2 separate regions of the Homo sapiens genome follow, and region 1 is linked to region 2. Evidence: fine-mapped expression QTL. Tissue or cell type: whole blood. Region 2 holds a variant in brackets; the other region holds the start of a gene. All regions are shown on one strand. Distances are between the middles of the regions.

Region 1 (2,609 bases), 20 kb before region 2:
ATGTCAGGCAAGACAGGGTTCTCATGGGAAGACTCTACAAACAATGATTCACTTCCAAGCACACAGAGCTGTCCAAAGGGTTCAGCTCCTTGCAGGTTGTGGGACCAAGGGCCTTCGGTTCTTGCAGGCTATTGGCTGGAGGCCATCCTCAGTTCCTTGTCATATGGGCCTCCCCAACATCACCACCACTTCATCAAAGCCAGCAAGAGAGGAGTCTCCTAGCAAGACACACGTTAGACTTTTATGTCACCTTTATTGCACTGTATTGGTTAGAAGCAAGTCCCAGTCCATACACAAGAGGGGATTGCACAAAGGTGTAACTACCAGGTGGCTGAGATAATGGGAGTTACAAATCCCTTCTGGGAGCTGGAAATCATCTTTCCTTGAAGTTTCTAAAAGCCACTGAACGGTTTGAAGCACTAAAGTAATAGCATATTCTTGTTTTAGAAAGAGCACTAGCCAGAAAGTGTGGAGAACAGATTGGTGGTAGAGAAAACCTTAGTTAGGGAATCCAGTTACCAGGCTGCAACGGCAATCCTAGTGAAATGGTGGTGGCCCCAACTAAGGTAATGCTACTGAGAATAGAGAAAGATGGAAACAATTGAGTTATTTAAGATACAATGAATAGGACTTGGTGATAAATAGATGGTGAGATCAAAGAGTTAAGAATATTCAGGCTCTGGTTTGTGCAAATGAGTGAGTGGGCAGTAATGTCATTCACTGAGAAAAGGAGGGCAGTCTAGACACGAAGCTGGAGGTGGATGGGTTAGTCCTCTAACAGAATTGGAGAGACTGAATAACTCTCCCTTGAAAGAACCACCTTTTATGATATGTTTAAACTAATGCTTATGTCTGCAAAGAACCTATTGCTTAAATTTGTTACAACAGGTTCAATCTTTTCAACTCATTTTAAATACATGAATTTTAGGATTACAAGTAGTCTGTGGATACAGGAACATCTGACTGAGTGTACAAAGAGGGACCTGCTCTTCCTAAAAACATCCTTCGTATGTTTTGAAAGCAAAAGGATGAGTTCTGGGCGCACAAAATATGGATAAAAGCTATGTATTTTAACGTATCTTACACCGGAGTAATTTGGGTTGAACTCAGCAGCCCTAAGCACTGTGCCGCAGGAACTTGTGCAGACAAAGCGCGGGGACGGACCCTGACTCCGGTCCGCGTCTCCGCTGCTCCCTCCCTCCCTTGCTCTGAGGATTAGACACAGGAGATGCTGCCTCATACTCTCGCGAGACGGACGGAGCTCTTCGATCGTCCGATTCTCCCAGCCGCACCACGGGTGCTCCCACCTGCGGAGAACCGGAGTCTGGCGATGCCAAGGCGCTTCTGGGAATTGTAGTTCCGGGCGGGATGAGGGCAGCACGCCTGGCTCCGCTCCTTCTTACGCATGCGCGACTCCGAGCTGGCCAAAGAAGTTCGTCCCCTTTGTGAGGCCCGGGATGGGAGGTGAGTTGCTTGTGGTGATGTCGCTCGTCTCGGCTCGGCCTCGGCGGTGGTTCCCCGGGTCGTTCTGTGCCGAGTCGGGGCTAGAGTGCGCGTTTGTTAAAGGGGCCTCGAGGGCAGACCATGAGCCCTGTCCCTTCTCACTCTGGCCTGATCCTCTCCTCGGGGGACGCGGTTGTGCCACGGGCGGGGTGGTCGCGGGGTTCTGGGCCAGTGCCCCGAGCGCGGCAGAATTTGTCCAAACTCCTGATGCCCCAGCGTCACCTCTTCCAGGTGCCCGGTTCCCCCAGGGACAGCTTCAAGCGGTAGGGACAGACATCTGAGGACCCAGCCTCAGGGATGCTGTCCCCGGGCTTCCAGGCTCCAGCGCCGTAGGACTGAGGCAGACTCCACGGTGAGAAAGAGACCCGATCTAACCCAGGCCTTTCATCAGAGCCCAGGAGGGAAGGCAGGAAGTGGGACCACGAGGCCCGGGGGGCTTCTAACTCGTCTGGCCAGGGAGATCTGAATTGGGGTGAAGAGCAGAATCTCCAGAACAAGGAGGAGGTGGTGATCATGGAGACAGATTTGGCTGAAATGCCTGAGAAAGGAGGTGAGAATTGCGGACGTGTTGAACTTGTAGCGTGGAAGGACGAAATTCCTGCTCCTGAAGGGAAAACGGTTGGCTCAGGGGAGGTGGCTCTTGGCTGGCTGTCTCCATTGTCTTGGGGATGGATGGGCTTTTTAAGTGAGACTGAAGGGCTTGGTATGGGAGCACCGCCCTTTCCATGGCAGCTGGGCACACAGTGGACCCTTCAAAGCTACCCCCAAAATGTGAGTGAAATGTTAACTTCTATGGCAAGAATTCACCTCTTTGGTTGTCAAAAATGTTTTGTTTTACATAGGAGAAAACAGGCGTAGTAGTTAATGACTGACTTCCATTCTACCTGACCAGTTTCATGAAGGTTGTGCTGTGACCTCCTACACCAGAATTCCCCCTGGGGTGGTTGTTAGATTTCTGGATTGTACCCCAGGCTCAACTAATGCTTATTACTTTGAGGTGGGGTCCAGCAATCTACATTATAAATAAGCTTTCAGAGTGAGAACCAACGAGTATAGATTAAACTGGGAAATTTACTGACATATTCTAATTTCTAGATCAGAGGATG
Region 2 (2,731 bases):
ACGGAAAATAGCTCACAGGATAGTCCTCAACTGACTTGCTTGAGGATAAGCAGCTTCCCTTCGTGAAGAAGTTGCCATTTCTCTGGCCTTCATATTTATCTACTTTTTGTTATTGTTGTCTGTATCGGTTCAATCTCACACTGCTATAAAGAAATGCCTGAGACTGGGTAACTTATAAAGAAAAAAGGTTTAATTGGCTCATGGTTCCATGGGCTGTACAGGAAGTATGACTGGGGAGGTCTCAGGGAGCTTTTACTCATGGCAAAAGGCAAAGCCAGAGCAGGTATCTTCACAGGGCTAGAGCAAGAGGAAAAGAGAGAGGGGAGGTGCTACACACTTTTTATGCAACCAAATCTCATGAGAACTCTATCACGAGACAGCAGTAGGGGGACAGTGCTAAATCATTCATGAGAAACTACCTGCGTGGTCCAGTCACCTTGCACCAGGCCCCACCTCCCACATTGGGGATTACAATTAAACATGAGATTTGGGTGGGGATACAGATCTAAACTGTATCATTACTCAAAAAAAAAAAAAAAAAGAAAGAAAAGAAAACACAGGAAAAGGAACTCACCTCTTTTATCATCTTAGTATTTAGTACTAATGGTTTAGAGCAGGAATTGACAAACTGTGGCCTGGACTCATGGACCAACTCTGGCCCACCACCTGTTTCTCAGAAGAAAATTTTATTGGAACTCAGCCACACTTACTCATTTACATGTTGTCCTTGACTGCCTTTGTGTCCAGTGTCAGAACTGAGTAGCTGCAGCGGAGGTTGTGCCTCTGGGCTTTAATATCACAAACAGAGCAGCTTATAAGCAACAGAAACTTACTTCTCACAGTTTTGGAGGCTGGGAAGTCCAAGATCAAGGTGTCAACATATTTAGGGTCTAGGGAAGGTCTGCTTCTTGGTTAATAGAAAGCACCTTTCACTGTGTCTTCACATGGTAGAAGGGGAGAGCTCTGGTATCTTCAGCCCCTTATAAGGGCACTAATCCCATTCATGAGAGCTCCACCCTCACGACCTAATCACCTCCAAAAGGCCCCATTTCGTAATACCGTCAGTTAAGTTTCATTATATGACTTTGATGGGGATATAGCCCATAGTAGGTTGTATGTCCCTGAAAGCCTAAAATATTTACTGTTTGGCTCTTTACAGAAAATATTTTCTTGGCCCCTGTTCCAGAGCATTCATCAAGTCAGATAAAGGGTTTAAACCAGTCAGAGAAACTAGGTGGAATGGAAAAGTACTGAGAGATAATTGGGGACAGAAAAATAAAAGAGATGGGAAATG[C/A]TGCATCAAAATACTCCTACCTCTAGGATGTTACTATATATTGTTAGGAGAATTCAAGTTATTGAAACTTGCCAAATTCTTGAGTGAAGAGGAATTCATTTGAGAGCCAAAATTTGACTAAGGAAAGAAGACCAACATGGGCTTTCCAAAGTTGAGTTTGAATTCTGCCATCCCCACTAAGCAGTCATGTGACCTTGGAAAAACTCCCTACTCTGAGTCTCAGTTTCTTTATCTGTATTAGGTTTCAACAAAGGGAATAAATCATTGGCTTCTCATGAGGTTGTCATAAGGATTAAATAAGACAATGCATATAAAAGAACTGGCAGACAATAAATATAGAGTCCCCCACTCCTGCTTGGTGCTCTCTTTCTCTCTCCTTCTCTACATAGAGAAGTGCCAGAGCATCCGTCAGTAGAAGTTACTTAAGGTTGGCTGTGTCTTCCACATCTTTTGTTTACCCATGAAGAACTGTGACCATCTTGTTCTGTGTCTTGTCATAAAGATGGGACGTGACTTCTTTCTGCTCTTGCTTCCATCTGGTGCTGTTTTCTGCACAGCCTCCTTGAGACCTTCCAGAACCTTCTTTTTTCCTACTTCATATCACTTAACCAGTAGCTATCTGGGATGGTTCCAGAGGCTGAAGTTTGCAGTTGAATAACATTTTAAATAGTGTTAAGCGACTTGGGATCTCTGGCCCTTTGCGTTTCAGTATTTGTCCTTTTTATGCCTGATGTTTAACCTGCCACATGTTTGTACTGCAACATGAATCTTGGAAATTTTAATGTTATGCATTTCAAATGTTTTTGGTTATCTGTAAACTAAATGTGCCCTTATTGGCTCACTTGTCAATAAAGATGTTTGTATATGTATTGTCAGAAACTTTTGTAAATTGCTTTTAAATTCTTCCTTTTTTAAAGCATATTTTAAGATGTAATGAAGGACCAACCAAAAAATATCTCCATATCATTCAGGATACCAATCCCATTTCTAGCTGGTCATCTGGCTTCACAACTTCTGGAGAGATGGGATGGGAGATACCGTCAGCAACCCAAGTATCTGCAAGAAGGTTAAGGAGTAGAGGAAGATAGTTTCTAACAAGTAGTACTGAGTCCCCAGGCCAGGTATAGGCACTACTCAGTAGGGCTAATTGGGGTGAAAGGGAGGGAATAACTTCGTATAAAAAGCACAGTTAAAATTAGGCAAAATGGGCCAGGTGCGGTGGTTCAAGCCTGTAATCCCAGCACTTTGGGAGGCTGAGGGAGGCAGATCACCTGAGGTCAGGAGCTCGAGACCAGCCTGACCAACATGGAGAAACCCCATCTCTACTAAAAATACAAAATTAGCCAGGCATGGTGACACATGGCTGTAATCCCAGCTACTCGGGAGGCTGAGTCAGGAGAATCACTTGAACCCGGGAGGCAGAGGTTGCAGTGAGCC

What was found. PIP is the estimated chance that this variant, and not a neighbour inherited with it, causes the effect. A credible set is the group of variants that fine-mapping cannot tell apart.
Region 1: it holds the start of ZNF286A, and the variant in region 2 is the best candidate, but not a certain one, in a credible set for the expression of ZNF286A in whole blood (INTERVAL, PIP 0.78).

Annotation. Positions count from the first base shown.
Region 1 is chr17:15,698,314-15,700,922 of GRCh38, forward strand. ZNF286A (zinc finger protein 286A) reads left to right here and starts at 1,439. Exons shown (of 6, transcript NM_001130842.2): 1 at 1,439-1,464; 2 at 1,822-2,053. The coding sequence starts at 2,017. It overlaps ZNF286A-TBC1D26 (ZNF286A-TBC1D26 readthrough (NMD candidate)), which reads left to right and starts at 1,439. Exons shown (of 23, transcript NR_171000.1): 1 at 1,439-1,464; 2 at 1,735-2,053. RefSeq lists enhancers at 1,136-1,747, 1,183-1,232, 1,243-1,562.
Region 2 is chr17:15,718,615-15,721,345 of GRCh38, forward strand. It overlaps ZNF286A (zinc finger protein 286A), which reads left to right. Exons shown (of 6, transcript NM_001130842.2): 6 at 1-2,173. The region is part of intron 6 of ZNF286A-TBC1D26 (ZNF286A-TBC1D26 readthrough (NMD candidate)); the gene reads left to right. Among named protein-coding and RNA genes, the nearest start is that of TBC1D26, 12 kb to the right of the region's middle. The variant C/A (reference allele first, on the strand shown) is at 1,295.